Linked DNA regions of Homo sapiens: all the other regions are linked to region 3. Evidence: fine-mapped expression QTL. A gene starts in region 3. Each other region holds a variant in brackets. All regions are shown on one strand. Distances are from middle to middle. Region 1 overlaps WWP2 (WW domain containing E3 ubiquitin protein ligase 2). Region 2 has its middle 15 kb from the start of MIR1972-2. Region 3 holds the start of WWP2 (WW domain containing E3 ubiquitin protein ligase 2). Region 4 overlaps WWP2 (WW domain containing E3 ubiquitin protein ligase 2).

The links. PIP is the estimated chance that this variant, and not a neighbour inherited with it, causes the effect.
Region 1: its variant is the best candidate, but not a certain one, in a credible set for the expression of WWP2 in aorta (GTEx, PIP 0.84).
Region 2: its variant is the best candidate, but not a certain one, in a credible set for the expression of WWP2 in whole blood (Lepik 2017, PIP 0.89).
Region 4: its variant is the best candidate, but not a certain one, in a credible set for the expression of WWP2 in whole blood (TOPMed, PIP 0.53).

The regions. Positions count from the first base shown.
Region 1 is chr16:69,933,468-69,938,616 of GRCh38, reverse strand. WWP2 (WW domain containing E3 ubiquitin protein ligase 2) reads right to left here. Exons shown (of 24, transcript NM_001270454.2): 17 at 4,488-4,647; 18 at 2,631-2,764; 19 at 2,165-2,305; 20 at 1,379-1,499; 21 at 965-1,069. Among named protein-coding and RNA genes, the nearest start is that of MIR140, 3.0 kb to the right of the region's middle. RefSeq lists a silencer at 4,765-4,955. The variant G/C (reference allele first, on the strand shown) is at 3,221.
Region 2 is chr16:70,042,641-70,047,789 of GRCh38, reverse strand. It overlaps the pseudogene PDXDC2P-NPIPB14P and the pseudogene PDXDC2P. Among named protein-coding and RNA genes, the nearest start is that of MIR1972-2, 15 kb to the right of the region's middle. The variant C/T (reference allele first, on the strand shown) is at 2,733.
Region 3 is chr16:69,759,795-69,764,943 of GRCh38, reverse strand. WWP2 (WW domain containing E3 ubiquitin protein ligase 2) reads right to left here and starts at 2,612. Exons shown (of 24, transcript NM_001270454.2): 1 at 2,553-2,612. RefSeq lists silencers at 2,136-2,185, 2,206-2,365, 2,386-2,525 and an enhancer at 2,229-2,807.
Region 4 is chr16:69,822,469-69,827,617 of GRCh38, reverse strand. The region is part of intron 4 of WWP2 (WW domain containing E3 ubiquitin protein ligase 2); the gene reads right to left. Among named protein-coding and RNA genes, the nearest start is that of WWP2, 63 kb to the right of the region's middle. RefSeq lists enhancers at 3,248-3,317, 3,328-3,427. The variant C/T (reference allele first, on the strand shown) is at 2,784.

The DNA.
Region 1 (5,149 bases), 170 kb before region 3:
TGGAGTGCAGTGGCACGGTCCAGCTCACTGCAGAGCAGTGGCACGGTCCAGCTCACTGCAGTCTCCACCTCCCAGGTTCAAGTGATTCTCATGCATCAGCTTCCCGAGTAGCTGGGATTACAGGTGTCCACCACCATGCCTGGCTAATTTTTTATATTGTTAGTAGAAAGAGGGTTTCACTATTTTGGCCAGGCTGGTCTTGAACTCCTGACCTCAAGTGATCTGCCCACCTCGGCCTGGGTGGGAAGCCAAGGAACCCAAAGTGGAAAGCCACTGAATTGTGTATCTTAAAAAACTTAAATGGGTTGGGCACAGTGGCTCACGCCTGTAATCCCAGCACTTTGGGAGGGTGAGATGGAAGGACTGCTTGAGCCCAGGAGTTCAGGACCAGGCTGGGCACCATAGCAAGACCCTGTCTCTATTGAAAAAAAAAAAATTAATAGTTAATTGTATGTTATACAAATTTCACCTCCACAAAAAATTTGTATACGTACATATGCACACAGACATGTACTAAGAATACCTGTAATCGCTATTTTTTTTTGTATGCTGTATTTCATAACGACAACAACAAAACCCATACGTATAAAAGAATCAACACATTAATTATACATAGGATGACAGCTCTTTCTGGTTTCTGGAGCCAAGCCCCTGCCTTCCTGTCCCATCTGGCTGGCAGGGGACCTCTCAACCAGTGGCAGCTGCTGTCTGCCTGCAGGTCTGTCCCTGCACACCAGCTGGCCCAAGGCTGACCACTGACGACCTCCTGTCACATCCACTGGCCACCACTCAGCTGGAACTGTCCCCGTTCATCCCAAGGCTGGTCTATCGTCTCCTTTTGCAAGGTGTGGGAGGCAAGGACAGGGCCAAAGCTGAAGGTCCTTGCGCGTGAGGCCTCCTCAGGACCCGTTTCCTTTGGTTGATGGCCCAAATGTCCCTGCCAAGGCCTGGGCCCGGGACCCACCTGCCAGAACCACTGGATCTGCTTGCTGTTCTTGGTGTAGTGCCGGTAGATGGTGCTCTTCTGCCAGTCGCTCATGTCTATCTCCTGCATGCCGCACAGCATCAGCTGGGGAGAGGCGGCAGTCAGCATCCCCGGCAGGTCCCTCCCCGCGCATCGTCCACTCGCTAGCACTTGACATTACCCCAAACATATTCAACTAGCTATTTTTGGTGTCAGCGTTAATAATATGGGTAATGTAAGTCCCTGCTTTCTTGAAACAAGTGTCTGGGGAAGGGTGGGTCCCAAATCAAACCCATCTGCCCTGCCGAAGTGGGAGTTTTACGCTGAGTGTCTGTGGGTACACAGTGAGCGTATCACAGAGCAGGATCGCCCCAGAGGCAGGGGCTCAGGGTCCCAGCAACCTCAGACACTCACCTCCAGCTCTTTCTCGTCAAAGTAGCGCAGCCACTCCAGCGGGGCCACCTCGTTGAAGCCATCCAGGAAGGCTTTGGTCTGCTCTTCCACGCCTCGGGTGAAACGCCAGTCAGTCAGCAGCCTGAGACCAAAGAGCAGCCATGGGTGGAGTCTGAGACCCACTGCTCAGGGGTGGCTCCCGGCCAGGCCGCGTGGCCGTTACCGCGCAGGACCACCAGATCAGCAGAGCCCACTTCGCACACCCAGACCCAGCCTGCTGGAGGACCTAGAGTGAGGCCCTGAAAACCTCACAGTGACCTGCAGACACCGGAGTCTTTGAAATCATCCTCACCACCACCTCCTCCTGCTCCTGCCCCCAGCGCCGACTGAACCTCAGACGTATGGAAGCGTGGAGATAAAGACTAAAGCAAGAGGCCTGAGGAACAGGCACGGAGAACGGGCACACGTGAGACGGTGGGTCTAGGCACACAGGCCACAGAGATCCTTTCGGCCCGGAGAAAGATGCAGATGTCTCAGCTTGATGCCACTTCAAAGAAATTCCACGCTGCAGGCTTGAAGTCTCCCACATGGCGAAAAAGCACAGCTGGGAGTCGGTAACTAAGGACCTCGGCTTTGGTTCCCCCAGCTCGCGCCATCACATGACCGCCCACCAGCAGCCACCATCAAGGCAAATGCAAATGGCATCCACAGTGACCGATGGGCCACAGGTGGGGGCCCATCTTTCTCTGCAACCCACTAGATCTCCACGCCACCCCTGGAGCGGAGCCCCCGGCGCCTGAGACTCACATGATGTACTCTTCCTTGTTCTCCTCTGTGACCCGGATGCTCTCGCCGCCCTCCTTCAGCTCGTGGGTCGTCACCTTGCCCAGTATCTCCATGTCCTGGATGAAGTACAGCTCCAGGCCACATTCTTCCAGGTTGTTCTCTCTGGGGGCACAGGAGACCAAGTGGGGAGATGTCTACCGTGTCAGGGTCTTTCCTGGATCCTGCTCTGTTGCCCGTGGGACACCAAGGGCCCACAGGTGGCCTAGAATCCTGAACAGTGACAGGGGACAGCTCCTTGACTCAAGGAGAAGGTTCTAGAACTGTCCCCAGGGAACCCAGAGGACATTCCTCTCCACAAGCTCTTATAGAGGCTGGAAAAGAGCTCAGGGGCCACACTGGCAGACAAAATAAAGGCCATCAGTACCTGCTTCCCACCCAGAGACGTCCCTCCTATCAGCGCGGTGGGGCAAGGGGGCAGGGAACTCACTTGATCCAGACAATGGAGTTGTAGAACTCAGGGTCAATGGACTCCAGGTCTTTCAGGGTTGGTCTCTTATTGAGCATCCGCTTGTAGAAAGGGAGGGTGAAGCCCGTGTCGATGAACTTTCCATGGTACAGCGCCTGGGAAGGAAGAGGCACAGCACAGAGGTTTGGCCTTCCCTGGGCACTGCCAAGACCAGCTCTCAGATGCTCGGTATCAAACTCTGCTACCGCTACCCGCCTTCCTTCCCTGACAGAACTACAGCAGCAGCTGCCTCGGACGCAGCGGGAGGGCCTCAGGAGTAAACAACGCCTTTATCCTGACTTGTACCTACAGAGGGACTCCCACCCTGCCCTGCAGACCGCAAGGACTGGGCAGAGCCAGCTGGTGCGGGAACCCACGTCCGGGCCCGCATCTGCCCCGCACGCTGGCCGGCTGGCTCCTGGCCTAGCAAAGGTCTGCCCCACGCTCACAGAAAAGGCTTGCTCTGAACAGCTGCAGGTGGCAGCCCTGATTCACTGGCGCTCAGGGTGGGTGGCAAAGGCAGCCAAAAATAATGCAGACACCGCCGACAGCGAGAGCTGGCGGCCAATGGT[G/C]AGTAATAGTCTAGGGTTTTACCGGTCTGTCCTGCTGGCTGCTGGGCCAGGCGGGTCTCTAGACCTGGGAAGAATGTGCCCATTTCCAGAGCCCAGCACCTTGGCCAAGAACTCCTCGACGATGGGAAGGGCCGGCCATATTTAGTCACAGGCTCATGGGGCGCTTGGGTCCTCCTAAGAGGGGAGCCGGGTGGGACACTCAGGAAGGCAGGGGAAGAAGCGAAGGAAAGGAGAATTGAAACATCTCCAGCTATGCATGTGGCTCCCGCGCTGTGCCTCCCACGGGCTCCGCTTCTCAATCCGGGTTCTCCACGCTCCCAGGACCCTCAACGGGGCACGTGGCAGGACCTCCCTTTCCATATTCACATTGTGTCCCTCTTTCCAGTTAAATACAGACGCTGGGACGCCCCTCCCCAGAACTGGCTCACTTTCTGACAGATGTCCCTACACCCTGCACCAGCCAGTCTACTGTTCACCAGGAGGCAGCGTGGCGTGAACGGCAGCGCCCATGGACTGGCGCGCCCTCTCTGGGCTCTACCCTTCGCCCCCATAGAGCTGGTAACCTAAAAATGTAAAAAGCTGGAGATAGTTCTGGAGAAACCAGAGCTTTCTCAGTGGCTGCCCTGTAGGTACTGAAGAGTTTCCATGTTGCTTTGCATAGGACTTGTCAAGAGGGGGCCCAGGGTCTCTGGGCCACAGACTTTACGTTTTGTTCTACACTAGTGTTGATTCCAAATGCCCTTCCAGAAGGCTTAGTGTCTCAGTGGGACATTCCCAAATGCCGTGACAGTGTCACCTCCCAGAGACAGGCAGCAGGTGGGCAGCTATGGTTTCACCTGGCCCTGTCATCCCAAGGCCCTCAACAGAGCACATATTTAATGTTCAGTAAAGTCTGTGGCCCAGCGACCCTGGGCTCCCTCTTGACAAGTCCTGTACAAAGCAACATGGAAACTCTTCACTACCTACAGGGCAGCCACTGAGAAAGCTCTGGTTTCTCCAGAACTCTCTCTAGCTTCTTGCATTTTTAGGTTACGAGCTCTATGGGGGCAAAGGGTGGAGCCCCGAGAGGGTGAGCCAGTCCACGGGGGCTGCCGTTCACGCCACGCTGCCTCCTGGTGAACAGGCCCAGGGCCTCCTCCAATGCTGCCCCTTCCTGGAGGTCTCAGAGAAAGAGCAGATTCCCCTGGTGCCCCTGGCACACTTCACCAGGAGAGGGAAGAGGAGGGAGAGGAGGAGGGAACTAGGCAGACCCCTGGGGCCCCCTTACCATGGCGATGAATCTGCCTATAAAGCGAAAGTAGGTGAGGTGGTCCGGGTTGATGGAGGAGGCGGGGTTGATCTGCAGGCAGTAATTGTTCTTTCCGGCATATTCAAATAAACAATACATAGGGTTGAGCACCTCATGAGACAGGAGGAAAAACCACTCTCTGTGAGGGAAGAGACAGAAAAGACAAGAATAATGGGTCCCTTCGTGCACATCTGCACAGGAGCTGTGTCTCTTCACCATCGTGTCTCAGGTTAGTATGGGGACACGTGTCCCAGGGAGTCGAGCCCTGTGACAAGCACCCGGGCTAACCTATATGAACAGCTGGTCAGTGAACAGGGCAGGCTCAGACCTACAGTGAACCAGGGCGGCAACTGCATTTGAGGATGATATTTGGGAAAACGTGTGATTGTCGGCTCCCAGGTGATGTGTTCCAAGACTTTACATCACAATATCCAGAGCTTCTAATGGTAAAGGGGGTCCTTGTACCCTGGGTCACCATGCTCAGTTGCCTAGGCTGTGCACTGCACAAGGGCACGATGCATGTTTATTACAATAATTTTTCTGCAAAGGTTCTGTTTGAATAGTAACTACCCTGTTTCCACTCTACCTGGGCGGGCAACATAACGTAAATACACAGCAACACATTTCCAACCCCGATCCAT
Region 2 (5,149 bases), 280 kb before region 3:
CTTACTGTAGCCTCAAACTCCCAGGCTCAAGTGATCCTCCTACCTCTGCCTCCCAAGTAGCTAGGACTACAGGTGTGCACCACCACACCCAGCTAATTTATTTCTCACTATGTTGCCCAAGCTGATCTGAAACTCCTGGCCTCAAGTGATTCTTCTGCCTTGGCCTCCCAAAGAATTTTTTTCTTCTTTTCAATGACACTTTTTTTTTTTTAATTTAAAAAAAAAATTTTTTTTAATTATACTTTTTAAGTTTTAGGGTACGTGTGCACAACGTGCAGGTTTGTTACATATGTATACATGTGCCATGTTGGTGTGCCACACCCATTAACTCTTCATTTAACGTTAGGTATATCTCCTAATGCTATCCCTCCTCCCTCCCCCCACCCCACAACAAGCAACAGTGTATGATGTTCCCCTTCCTGTGTCCATGTAGTCTCATTGTTCAATTCCCACCTATGAGTGAGAACATGTGGTGTTTGTTGTTTTGTCCTTGAGACAGTTTGCTGAAAATGATGGCTTCAAGCTTCATCCATGTCCCTACAAAGGACATGAACTCACCATTTTTTGTGGCTGCATAGTATTCCATGGTGTATATGTGCCACATTTTCTTAATCCAGTCTATCATTGATGGACATTTGGGTTGGTTCCAAGTCTTTGCTATTGTGAATAGTGCCACAATAAACATACGTGTGCATGTGTCTTTATAGCGGCATGATTTATAATCCTTTGGGTATATACCCAGTAATGGGATGGCTGCATCAAATGGTATTTCTAGTTCTAGATCCCTGAGGAATCGCCACACTGACTTCCACAATGGTTGAACTAGTTTAGCGTCCCAACAGTGTAAAAGTGTTCCTATTTCTCCACATCCTCTCCAGCACCTGTTGTTTCCTGACTTTTTAATGATTGCCATTCTAACTGGCGTGAGATGGTATCTCATTGTGGTTTTGATTTGCATTCTCTGATGGCCAGTGATGATGAGCATTTTTTCATGTGTCTTTTGGCTGCATAAATGTCTTCTTTTGAGAAGTGTCTGTTCATATCCTTCGCCCACTTTTTGATGGGGTTGTTTTTTTTCTTGTAAATTTGTTTGAGTTCATTGTAGATTCTGTCTATTAGCCCTTTGTCAGGTGAGTAGACTGCAAAAATTTTCTCCCATTCTGTAGGTTGCCTGTTCACTCTGATGGTGGTTTCTTTTGCTGTGCAGAAGCTCTTTAGTTTAATGAGATCCCATTTGTCAATTTTGGCTTTTGTTGCCATTGCTTTTGGTGTTTTAGACATGAAGTCCTTGCCCATGCCTGTGTCCTGAATAGTATTGCCTAGGTTTTCTTCTAGGGTTTTTATGGTTTTAGGTCTAACGTTTAAGTCTTTAATCCATCTTGAATTAATTTTTGTATAAGATGTAAGGAAGGGATCCAGTTTCAGCTTTCTACATATGGCTAGCCAGTTTTCCCAGCACCATTTATTAAATAGGGAATCCTTTCCCCATTTCTTGTTTTTGTCAGGTTTGTCAAAGATCAGATAGTTGTAGATATGCAGCATTATTTCTGAGGGCTCTATTCTGTTCCATTGGTCTATATCTCTGTATTGGTACCAGTACCATGCTGTTTTGGTTACTGTAGCCTTGTAGTATAGTTTGAAGCCAGGTAGCGTGATGCCTCCAGCTTTGTTTTTCTGGCTTAGGAGTGACTTGGCAATGTGGGCTCTTTTTTGGTTCCATATGAACTTTAAAGTAGTTTTTTCCAATTCTGTGAAGAAAGCCATTGGTAGCTTGATGGGGATGGCATTGAATCTATAAATTACCTTGGGCAGTGTGGCCGTTTTCACGATATTGATTCTTCCTACCCATGAGCATGGAAAGTTCTTCCATTTGTTTGTATCCTCTTTTATTTCATTGAGCAGTGGTTTGTAGTTTTCCTTGTAAGTTGGATTCCTAGGTATTTTATTCTCTTTGAAGCAATTGTGAATGGGAGTTCACTCATGATTTGGCTCTCTGTTTGTCTGTTATTGGTGTATAAGAATGCTTGTGATTTTTGTACATTGATTCTGTATCCTGAGACTTTGCTGAAGTTGCCTATCAGTTTAAGGAGATTTTGGGCTGAGACGATGGGGTTTTCTAGATATACAATCATGTCATCTGCAAACAGGGACAATTTGACTTCCTCTTTTCCTAATTGAATACCCTTTATTTCCTTCTCCTGCCTCATTGCCCTGGCCAGAACTTCCAACACTGTGTTGAATAGGAGTGGTGAGAGAGGGCATTCCTGTCTTGTGCCAGTTTTCAAAGGGAATGCTTCCAGTTTTTGCCCATTCAGTATGATATTGGCTGTGGGTTTGTCATAAATAGCTCTTATTATTTTGAGATACGGTCCATCAATACCCAATTTATTGAGAGTTTTTAGCATGAAGGGTTGTTGAATTTTGTCAAAGGGCTTTCTGCATCTATTGAGATAATCGTATGGTTTTTGTTGTTGGTTCTGTTTATATGCTGGATTACATTTATTGATTTGCGTATGTTGAACCAGCCTTGCATCCCAGGGATGAAGCCCACTTGATCATGGTGGATAAGCTTTTTCATGTGCTGCTGGATTCGGTTTGCCAGTGTTTTATTGAGGATTTTTGCATCGATGTTCATCACGGATATTGGTCTAAAATTCTCTTTTTTTGTTGTGTCTCTGCCGGGCTTTGGTATCAGAATAATGCTGGCCTCATAAAATGAGTTAGGGAGGATT[C/T]CCTCTTTTTCTATTGATTGGAATAGTTTCAGAAGGAATGGTACCAGCTCCTCCTTTTACCTCTGGTAGAATTCGGCTGTGAATCCATCTGGTCCCGGATTTTTTTTGGTTGGTAAGCTCTTAATTATTGCCACAATTTCAGAGCCTGTTATTGGTCTATTCAGAGATTCAACTTCTTTCTGGTTTAGTCTTGGGAGGGTGTATGTGTCGAGGAATTTATCCATTTCTTCTAGATTTTCTAGTTTATTTGCATAGAGGTGTTTATAGTATTCTGTGACGGTAGTTTGTATTTCTGTGGGATCGGTGGTGATATCCCCTTTATCATTCAGTGAAACTTTTTACAAATAAAAACTTTACTCAAAACCCTGTTATACAAAACAGAGCTGATCTGCTAGGGAGTTAGAAGCCCCAACTGCTTACCTAACCCTTCCTTCTCAGAGTCCTCCCAGGGACCTTAAGGCTCAGGAGAACACAGCTGGAAAATCCCTGGACTAGATCCCTTAGGTCCCTTCTAGAATGTAACAATTTCTGAATCTTATGTTGATAAATGGAGTGGAATTTCTTAAAAACAATTTTGAGGAGGCAATGCAGTTTTAAATATGTACGTATTGTATGCCATGCTGTAAGATATTGCTAGATACAGTGAGCAATAGGAAAAGGTAAACACAGCTCTTCCTTTAAGCAGCACACTTAGAAGAGTAAGAGGGGAACAAAAGAGCTATAACTTATATATGATATTATATGTATTATATGTAATATATATAATTTATTGTTATAACACAACTCATACTACATAGAGATTGAAGTCAACAAGAATTTTCTCCCTAAAAATAACTACAGAGATTAAGAATAGAGAAAGGAAAATGAATGTGTATGTTTTAATTCTGCAAAAAGTTCGGGCACAGTGGCTCAGCCTGTAATCCCAGCAGAAGGATAACTTGAGCTCAGGAGTTTGAGACCAGCCTATGCGGCATAATGAGACCCTTGTATCTACAAAAAAATTGTGAAAATTAGCAAGGCATGGTGGCGAGCACTTGTATTCCCAGGTACTCAGGAGGCTGAGGTGGGAGGATCACTTGATCCCTGGAGGTCAAGGCTGCAGTGAGCCACGATCAAACCACTGTACCCCAGTCTGTGTAACAGAGCGACTGTCTCAAAAATAATATTTGTCAAAATAGCATGTCTTTGTATCACTGCCACATTGCTTGTCTGAAGCGAAGCTGACTCACTTTGTTATCATAAGTGATCTTACCAAAGACCAAGTTGTCCAGTTGCCTTGGAGTGTAGGTCATGCGTTGCCGGTACCCTGGGGCTGTGTACAATGGCCAGGCTGAGGGGACCTTGTGGTTACCCCCATGGGACTTGTAACTTGTCAAGTGGGAAGGTGGTACCAAGTGAAGAAGGGTAGGGTCCTTGGTTTTGGCCTCACGTGGTTCTTCCCAGAATGAATGGTGAAAAAATTATAATTCTGCAGAAAAATTTAAATTCTATTTTGTTTACTTTTTGGATGGGAGATAGGTGTACACATGGCACTAAAATTCAAAAGGAACTTAAGGAGGCCAGGCACGGTGGCTCACACCTGCAATCCCAGCACTTTGGGAAGCTAAGGTGGCCAGATCACTTGAGGTCAAGAGTTCGAGACTAGCATGGCCAACATGGTGAAACCCCCCGTCTCTACTAAAAATATAAAAATTAGCTGGGCATGGTGGTGTGTGCCTGTAATCCCAGCTACTTGGGAGGCTGAGGCAAGAGAATCACTTGAACCCAGGAGGCAGAGGTTGCAGTGAACAAGGTCATGCCATTGCACTCTAGTCTGGGCAACAGAGTAAGACTCCATCTCAAAAAATAAAAATAAAAACAGCAGCTTCCTCTAGGAAGTGGGGCTGGAAGACTTTTACTTTTTCTGTTATACTTTTGTACTATTGCAGGTTTTAAAATCATGTACTTCACAGTAAATCCAGAAGAAATTATGCACTTAATTTTTCTGGGTGAATTGTGTTGTAGAGGTAATAGAGGATTATTAAAATTTCTTTCTTTTTTTTTTTTTTCCCCAGATAGCAGACCCCACGTTAGCTGAAATGGGAAAAAACTTGAAGGAGGCAGTGAAGATGCTGGAGGACAGTCAGAGGTGAGTAGGACAGAGGTGACCCTGTTCAACGAGTTCAGCCTGCTGTGAAGCCAGTGGCTCTGGGTTCTTTCTGTTAAAGGTGCCTCTTGGCTTCACAGTGTCACACACAGCTTCGGCTGACTTGAAAATTGGTGTTTGTCTTGGGTAAAAGGTGCCTTGTAATTAAAGGATTTTGAAATTGAGAGGAAAGACTTATACTATTTAATTCTGTCTATTAAGAGTTTCATTTACTTAATATATTGATTTGACTCTATAAATACTTATTATATATTCAGGTCATATAGAGCAC
Region 3 (5,149 bases):
GCATGAGCCACCATGTCTGACCAACTATTTATAATTACGTTGTATTTAACCCAATAAATCCAAAATGTTATCATACATGTTTATACATTATATGATCGTTTACTATAACATAAAAAGTATCAATGAGACATTTTACTTTTCTTCATGCTAAGTCTTCAAAATCCAGAATGTATTTTATGCTCACAGCATAGCTCCAGTGCTCAGCAGCCCCATGTGGCTAGTGTACACCATACTGGACTCTACAACAATGCCTGGCAAAGACAGAGTGGGTACTTATAAATATTCACTGAATGAAAGAATGTTTTCCCAGGAAGAGGAAGCTATGGTAGAGTACAGCGTTTTCTAAACTTCATTTACTCACATTCTACATTCACAACTTTTTCTGTGTGATCTTTTTCCTTAAAATGTTACACTTTTTATTCCTGAAAAATTATGTAAAAATAAAACTTTCAGTTGGGCATGGTGACTTACACCTGTAATTGCAACACTTTGAGAGGCCGAGGTGGGAGGATCGCTTGAGCCCCGGAGTTTGAAAACAGCCCGGGCAACATAGCAAAACCCCTGTCTCTACAAAAATTAGCCAGGCGAGGTGGCACCCACCTGTAGTCCCAGCTGTTTGGGAGGCAGACATGGGAGGATCACCCGAGCCCAGGCAGGTCAAGGTTACAGTGAGCCGTGATTGTGCCACTGCACTCCAGCCTGGGCAACAGAGTAAGATCCTGTCTCAAAATAAAATAAAAATAAAATTTTCTATTGTGTCAATAAATGAAAAAGAATGGATCTAAGGATTAAGGGTCTGGGCTTGAGTCCCTACTCATTTACTAGCTCTGAAATCTAAAGTAAGGACTTCATTAAGCCTCAGTCTCTTCATGTGATATAGGGACAATACTGACCATCCCAATTTCAAAGGGAAGGTTAAGTGAGATGTTGGTATACGCTCTTTGTAAATGGGAAAGTAATCATGAAGTGAAAGAGACTGAGAAGCCAATCCAAGCCTTTCTCTCGAGCCTGTTTTCATATGGACCAATGACACAGATAATCACAAGCTTCTCTGACAAGAAAAAGAGTAGAAGACTTGGGTTCAAATCCTTTGTCACCACTTACGCCGGTGTGACTTTTAGAAATGCATTTATTCACCAAATATTTATCAAGTGCTCACAACATGCCAGGCACTAGGCTAGCAGCCAAATAAAATATGAAACCTGCCCTTGAAGGATTTGCAATCTAGCAGGAAGAGGCCAGCAAACAAGAAAGAGCAATAAATTGTTTTAAAAAATCAAGTCGTCTCTCGTAAGTCTGTTTGTTCCCTGTGAAATGAGAATACATCTTCCCAACCTCACTCATAGGCGCTGCTGCAAAAACTAATTTTTAAATGTTTGTCAAATAACTCCAAAAACTTGAACTCATAATACATTAGGAAAGTACTTTTTCCTACTTGTAACCCAAAACGATGCTGGCTGCTGTGAATGTCCAGTTTGAACATTCGTTCCAGTTACACTGCACTCATGAAACTCCTTTTGCTTCTGCAAATTTTAGTAAACATGAGAAACAGGAAGATGAACAGGCTTTAACACAAGTATTCAATCTCAAAATCATGATCCAGGTCACAGTTCTAAGGAACATAACACAGACCTCTCAGGCACCCTACCTAGTTACAGTTCGTCAAGATAAGCAGTCACAAGATAAGCTAAGGGAAACTGAATAATTTAAACGGAAGAAAGAGAAAAGTCATAAAGCAGTCTAGGTAGACACTTCTCTGTCCAAGATTTCAGCAGTCACTATGTTGCTGAGGTAACGCTGGGCTAGGTCAACAGTGTAAGCTAAAAGCCATTTTACAGGCAAAGTGCCCACACTTATTTTTTTAATTTATTTTCTTTTTTTGTTTTTTAAAGCCTCGATGATGGCCCGTTCAGGGAAAATCTCAAAGAAAAATGAGCTGAAGGGCTAGGCTCCCAAGAAGTGGAAACCCTACCCACGCAGGACTAAGTGGGCGCGAGGGAAGCAAGACGATCAAGATTCTGTGATCCCTCCTGAAGTTTAAAAACTGAATGGGACCGTCATCAAAGTCTCGGGTAACAATCATTTCCAAACAGGAAGGAAGGGAGAGACTCTCAGAGGGGGTCCAGGCAGCATCTTTTTCCCTCTGGCTCCACGCCATAAACCCATTTTCAGGCACCCCCTTCCAGCTCAGTTCCAAGTCGCCCCTTCCCCTGGTCCCGATCCCTCCACAAAGATCGCTCCTCTCCATGCCTGGGAACCTAAGCTCCTCTCCCCTTCCGGGAGGACTCGCTCCAGCTGCACCCTTGGCGGCCGGGGCACCCATTTCGGAGCAACCCCCGCGCGGGCCGCGGCGCGCCCACCCCACTCGGGCGGGAGCCGGGACACCCCTCCTCGGAGGCCGGAACCGCCGCGCCAGGCCCCTCCCACAGGAAGCCGCCGCCCCCCGACGCCCGGGCCGCGCCGCCCCCGGCCCACCCCGCGCCGCCCGCCGCCCCCGGCCCGCCCCGTGCAGGCAGCCAGCCCACCGCGCCCCCCGCGCCAGCGCTCGCTACCTGCCGTGGCCACAGAAGCGGCGCCGAACTCCTCTCCTACTTCCGCCTTCCACCGCCCGCACTCGGGCCGGGTCACGTGACCGCGCGCGGTCACCTGACCCGGAAGAGGCTGGCCAGGCTCGCAGGTGCGGGCCACCTAGGCCTGGCCTGGGCACCTCTGGCCTCGAGGAGGCCTTTTTATCGTCTCTGTAGTTGAAAGTGGAAGGGTTTCTGCTCACCGGATGGTCCCAGGCAATCAAATAAATTGAGGGCTCACTGAATGCCACCTACTCTGCCCATCAACCTTATAGAGGCAGGGACAGGTACTAGCCCCATTTTACAGGTGAAACGAGACCTTCAGACTGTTAAGTCAGCAAATACTTAATTGAGCTCCTTTAGTAGGGTTGCCAGATAAAGTACAGGACACCCACTTAAATTTGAATTTCAGATAAACAACAGTGTAATATGTATGTCCCAAATACAGAATGGGACATATTTATACTAAAAAAAGTATTTTTTGATTATCTGAAGATCAAATTGAATTGAGTATCTGTATTTCTATTTCCTGGCAACCTTATGCCTATTATGTGCCAGGCACTGTTCTAAGATCCAGGACCACAAACATCTCAGCCTTTGTGGGGCATCTGTCCTTGTGACATGAAGCAAAAGTACAAAAGCTTAAAAACTCCTGCTTGGCTCCATAAAAAGCCCCTCCACACTAATCCAATCGCATTCCCTTAATCTACAACTACAGGGCACAGAGAACTTAATGAATTATAATCCAGGTAGGTAGGTAGGTAGGTAGGTGGATAGATAGATGATATTTTTTTTTTTTTTTTTGAGATGGAGCCTCGCTCTGTCGCCCAGGCTGGAGTGCAGTGGTGCAGTCTCAGCTGACTGCAACCTCCGTCTCGCCGGTTCATGCAATTCTCCTGCCTCAGCCTCCCGAGTAGCTGGGATTACAGGCGTGCACCACCACGCCTGGCTAATTTTTGCATTTTTAGTAGAGACAGGGTTCCTCCATGTTGACCAGTCTGGTCTCGAACACCTGACTTCAAATGATCCGCCCACCTTGGCCTCCCAAAGTGCTGGGATTACAGGCATGAACCACCGCACCTGGCAGAGAAATATTTTTTTTAAGAGATGGGTCTGGATAGGTTGCTTTGGCTGGGCTCGAACTCCCAGCTTCAAGCAGTCCTCTTGCTTCAGCCTCCCAAGTAGCTGAGACTACAGGCGAATGCCACTGTGCCTGCCCAATAACTTTATTTATTTATTTATTTATTTATTTATTTGCTTGCTTGAGACAGAGTTTCACTCTTGTAGCCCAGGCAGGAGTGCAGTGGCTCAATCTTGGCTCACTGCAACCTCTGCCTCCCAGGTTCAAGCAATTCTCCTTCCTCAGCCTCCTGAGTAGCTGGGACTACAGGCACCCACCACCATGCCTGGCTAATTTTTGTATTTTTAATAGAGATGGGGTTTCACCATGTTGGCCAGGCTGGTCTCAAACTCCTAACCTCAGATGATCCACCTGCCTTGGCCTCCCAAAGTGCTCAGATTATAGGCGTGAGCCAATGCGCCCGGCCTCCAAGAACATTTTAAATAGACATTCTTGACTGATGTTCTGGACAAGTTGAATGAAGGCTCAGTTTAATCACCATTGATTAAAATTAATACTAATGACGTAATTAGCCTCAAAGACTTGTACTAATCTGTTATTTTTGGGTCTTCGAATTGGGATGGATTCTATCATGCATACAAATTAAATTGGCTGGTGGGGCGTGGAGGCTCACGCCTGTAATCCCAGCACTTTGGGAGGCAGAGGCAGGTGGATTACCTGAGGTCGGGAGTTCGAAACCCACTTGGCCAACCTGGTGAAACCCCATCTCTACTAAAACTACAAAAAAAAAAAAAAAAAAGATTCGCCGGGCATGGTCCGGGTGCGGGTAATCCCAGGTACTCCAGAACCTGAGGCAGGAGAATTGCTTGAACCCGGGAGGCGGAGGTGGCAGTGAGCCATGATAACGCCTCTGCACTCCAGCCTGGGCGACAGAGTGAGACTCTGTATCTAAATAAATAAATAGGTTGAACACTTAGTCTCTACTTTTTGTAGTACCACTCCAAATCCAAGAGATTAACTTTCAAGGAGATACAGTCCTGTCTTTGTACATTAAACCCTATATTAGTCTCATTTATAAAACTACTATAACTAAAACTTCTCCAGTTCCATTGATGGCAGTTTTACTAATTCTGTTCTAGATAAATTAGAGACTATTTCCTTGACTTACTAGCATTTGTTGGTTTCGGTTTGTTTTCTTCTTTCATATTTCATTTTTTATCTTTTGTTGCTTTTTTTTAACAACCCTGCAGAAAAGATTTAGTGGCATCTGAGTAAGTGTTCACCAAAGGGGAGAAGGGACAAGCAAAGAGCACACACTGCACATTAAAAGAATAAAATCTGACAGGGTGCGGTGGCTGGCACCTGTAATCCCAGTACTTTGGGAGGCCAAGGCGGGCAGATCAGACTGTCAGGGGCTCGAGATCAGACTGGGCAACATGGTGAAAACCCATCTCTACAAAAAATACAAATATTAGCTGGGCATGGTGGCACACACCCGTAG
Region 4 (5,149 bases), 63 kb before region 3:
ATGTTCTTTGCAGAGCAAAATGTAGGAGTCCTCTTAGAAAATTATTTTTTAAGGTTACAATTCTGCTTTTAAAAAAATTCCCTTGTATACATTGGAGTTTTTTTACAAATTATAATTTCAGATGAGGGACCTATTATGCCCCAATTAAGATTTGGATTAGTGATTATAAAGCGTATACAACAACATGGAAAATTATTCATACCACAAAGTTAAGTTTTTATTTTTTTTGAGATGGAGTCTCTGTCGCCCAGGCTGGAGTGCAGTGGCGCGATCTTGGCTCACTGCAACCTCTGACATTATAGAATGCACCCTATTACTAAAATCATGTAAAAATAAGTATACAAAGGGGCAAAGAAATAAATGAACCAGGGAAAAATGATAAGTTGTGTTTGAGCAGTAAGATTATGAAACAAAGATTTTCTTTGTTCAATTTCCATTAATTCCACAGTAGTTTTTTTTTTTTCATAATTTCCATTTCAGTTAAACATTAGACATGTATGCAGGAGTGTCAACAAGTGAAATGACACAAGGCATGAGATTTTCTTGCAAATACTTCCCCAAAAGATGGGAGCTAAAGATGAAGGACAAGTAGATGTGTGCTGGTTATCATTTAAGCTGGGTAACTGGTGCTAGATGGTCCATTATTCTCTCCGCCCCCCCCCCTTTTTTTTTTTTTTTTGAGGTGGAGTCTCGCTCTGTCACCCAGGCTGGAGTGCAGTGGCACGATCTCGGCTTACTGCAAGCTCCGCCTACCGGGTTCACACCATTCTCCTGCCTCAGCCTCCTGAGGAGCTGGGACTACAGGCACCTGCCACCATGTCCGGCTAATTTTTTTTTGTATTTTTATTAGAGACGGGGTTTCACCGTGTTAGGCTAATTTTTTTTTTTTTTTTTGTATTTTTATTAGAGAGAGGGTTTCACCATGTTAGCCAGGATGGTCTCGATCTCCTGACCTCGTGATCCACCCGCCTCGGCCTCCCAAAGTGCTGGGATTACAGGCCTTAGCCACCGTGCCCGGCTCCACTTTTTTTTTTTTTTTTTTTTTTGAGACGGAGTCTCACTCTGTTGCCCAGCCTGGAGTGCAATGGCACTATTTCGGCTTACTGCAACCTCTGCCTCCTGGGTTCAGCCAATTCTCCTGTCTCAGCCTCCCAAGTAGCTGGGACTACAAGCACCCACCATCACGCCCGGCTAATTTTTTTGTGTGTATTTTTAGTAGAGACAGAGTTTCACTATGTTGGCCAAGCTGGTCTCGTACTCCTGGCCTTGTGATCTGCCTGCCTCGGCCTCCCAAAGTGCTGGGATTACAGGCATAAGCCACTGCGCCTGGTCTACTTTTTTTTTTTTTTTGAGACGGAGTTTCACTCTTGTCACCCAGGCTGGAGTGCAGTGGTGTGATCTCAGTTCACTGCAAGCTCTGCCTCCTCAGTCCAAGCGATTCTCCTGACTCAGCCTCCTGAGTAGCTAGGATTATAGGCACCCACCACCACACCCGGCTAATTTTTGTATTTTTAGTGCAGATGGGGTTTCATGATGTTGGCCAGGCTGGTCTCAAACTCCTGACCTCAGGTGATCTGCCCACCTCAGCCTCCCAAAGTGCTGGGATTACAGGCATGAGCCACCGCGCCTGGCTGCTTCTACTTTTATTTATGTTTGAAATTTTCCATAGTAAAAAGTTTAAAAAGTATTTTCCAGGCAGGGTGTGGTGGCTCACGTCTGTAATCCCAACACTTGGAGAGGCCAAGGTGAGAAAATCCCTTGAGCCCAGTTTGAGACCAGCCTGGGCAACATAGGGAGATCCTGTGTCTACAAAAAATGTAAAAACTTAGACAGGTGTAGTGGCATGCACCTGTGGTCCCATCTACTTGGGAGGCTGAGGTGGGAGGATCACTTGAGCCCAGGAGGTCAAGGCTGCAGTGAGCTGTGATCGCACCACTACACCTCAGCCTGGGCAACAGAACAAAACCCTGTATCCAAAAAAAAAAACCAAAAAAAAAAAACCCACTTCTGCTATATCATATCGTCTTTACAATAAATAATATTAGCTTTCAAAATAAAAAATAATGTGCTCATCAAAAAAATTCAAATACAGAAAGGTAAACTATGACACCTACTCCACAAATGCACACATTCCAAAGCCTTTCCCATGGTATCGCCACTTTAGTTTTTTGGTTTTTGGGGTTTTTTTTTTTTGGAGATGGAATCTCGCTCTGTTGCCCAGGCTGGAGTGCAGTGGCACCATCTCAACTCACTGCAACCTCTGCCTCCTGGGTTCAAGGGATTCTCCTGCCTCAGCCTCCTGAGTAGCTGGGACTACAGGTGCCTGCCACCATGCCCAGCTAATTTTGTATTTTTAGTAGAGACGGGGTTTCACCATGTTGGTCAGGCTGGTCTCGAACTCCTAGCCTCAAGTGATCCGCCCACCTCAGCCTCCCAAAGTGCTGGGATTACAGGTGTGAGCCACTGCACCCAGCCAGTATCGCCCACTTTGAAAAACTTTGTATGAAGTCATTGCAAACACAAGCACAAATATACACATAAAAGCTACAGATGCAAGGCCGAGCACAGTGGCTCATGCCTGTAATCCCAGAGCCTGAGGTGGGTGGATCACCTGAGCTCAGGAGTTCGAGACCAGCCTGGCCAACAAAGTGAAACCCCATCTCTACCAAAAATACAAAAATTAGTCAGGCATGGTTGTGCATGCCTGTAATCCCAGCTCCTTGGGAGGCTGAGGCAGGAGAATCACTTGAACCCGGGAGGTGGAGGCTGCAGTGAGCCAAGAT[C/T]ACACCACTGTACTGCAGTCTGGGTGACAGAGTAAAACTCTGTCTCAAAAAAAAAAAAAAAAAAAAAGCCACAGGTGCAAAGTTGAGGTCATTCTAGGCCCAAAGCTCTGCCCTTTGATTTTTCACTTGTAATCTATGAATCTTTTCAAATATATACAGATGCACTCTATCCACTCAAGAGGGTTTGGGGATTCCTCCCTCCAAGAGAATGAATTCATGCAATACATGTGTTATAAACATTAATTAATTGAGGGAGAGAGGAAAAGGGCAAGAGGAAGGAAAAAAGGAAGGAACAAAGGGAAGGGGGAGGGAGGGGGAGGGGGGAAGGGAGGGAGGGAGGGATATTATTTTCTGAGAAGTGTGTGCCTTACTGTCCTGGATGTAATAAACAGCACTCCCAGGCCAGGCCAGGCACTGAAGTCAGAGTCCCACTCTGTACCTAATAGTGGCACTAACTGCCCACTTATGTGACTGTGACACTCTTACTCTGGTCCAGGATTACCTTCCCTTTTGACGGACCACTCTCCCACAAAGAATAAGCCTCCTACACTAAGAAAAATACTCCAAGAATCCTGGTAGTCTGAAGGAAGAGGGAAAATTAAACACTGCAATGAGATAAATGAGGTCTGATGTTAACATGGCTATTCCGGCAGCCACAGCACCTCCCCTGGGAGAACCTGGGAGGCTGGAATGGACGGTCAGGCGGAAGCCGCCCGAATGACTGGTGCGGAGCAGAGGCCCAAACACCAGATGAAGTGTTTCAGTTTTGTTTTTGGCAAGGGGAAGGAAACAGCTCACATTCAGGCAACAATCTCATTTTCCTGTCACCAGGTCAAGGCCACCATTCCCGGCCTGCAGCAGGTGTTCATTTAGGGCCTGAATGCTACACGGCTGATGAGAAACAGCACAGGCCCTTGGAGAAGATGGCCCAACGCCCCTGTGCCACAGGCTCAAGAGGAATGGAAGAAGTTTCTAGAACTGTACAAATATAACCCTACACTAATGGTAACCTGATTTCGCAGAAAAGTTTCTTCTGAAGACAAGGTGATGTTTTAACAAAAATTTTTGGCTGGGCACGGTGGCTCAAGCCTGTAATCCCAGCACTTTGGGAGGCTGGGGCAGGCAGATCACTTGAGGTCAGGAGTTCGAGGCCAGCAGGGCCAACATGGCAAAACCCCTTTTCTACTAAAAATATAAAAATTAGCTAGGTGTGGTGGTACACACCTGTAATCCCAGCTACTTGGGAGGCTGAGGCAGGAGAATCGCTTGAACCCAGGAGCACAGGCTGCAGTGAACAAGACCGCACCACTGCACTCCAGCCTGGGCAAGAAAGCAAGGCTCCACCTCAAAAAAAAAAAACACAAGAAAAAGAGAAAATTTAAATCAAAAAATTTGTAAATACAAATAAATAAATAAAAGAAGAGAAGTTTCCCAGTCTTTCTCCAGGGACTCAACCTCTAGACCTGCACTGTCCAATATGGGGGCCACAGCTACCTGCAGCCATACTTAGAAGGTGGCTGGTATGGATTAAGATGTGCTGTGTGTCAGAAAGACACACCTGAGGCCAAAAAGTATGTAAAATATCTCATTAGTACTTTTCTTTATACTGATTACATGTTAAAATAGCATTTCAGATATGTGGAAATAAGCTACATTATTAAAATTAATTTCACCTGTGTTTTTGTTTTTACTTTTTTCTTTTTTGAGACACAGTCTCGCTCTGTTGCGCAGGCTGGAGTGCAGTGGCGCGATCTTGGCTCACTGCAATCTCTGCCTCCTGGGTTCAAGTGATTCTCCTGCCTTAGCCTCCCAAGTAGCTGAGATTACGTGCCACCATGCCTGGCTAATTTTTGTACTTTTAGTAAAGATGGAGCTTTGTCATGTTGGCCAGGCTGGTCTTGAATTCCTGGCCTCAAATGATCCACTGGCCTCAGCCTCCCAAAGTGCTGGGATTGCAGGCGTGAGCCACGGTGCCTGGCCTATGTTTTGACTTATTTTTAATATGGCTAGTAGCAAATTCTAAATTATACACACACCTCAAATTCTGTTTCTATTGGACAGCACTGATCTAGCACCTGCCTCCTCCCTGCCGTTGGCCTCCTGTGTGACTTGACAGCAACCAGCTTGTTCCTGCCTCAAAGCTTCCCACATGCTGTTCCCTCCACCTAAAATGATTTTCTCTTGTTCCTCTAGACGATTCCTTTTTCTCTTTCTGGTGTCCAGGTGTCACTTCCTCCAGGAAGCCTTCCTTGATAAACACACATGCATGAACACACACACACAAACACACACACACACACACCCCACCCAGGCCAGGCAAAGTCTCCCATGATGCATTCCCAGATCATCCTGTACTTTGCTCCATC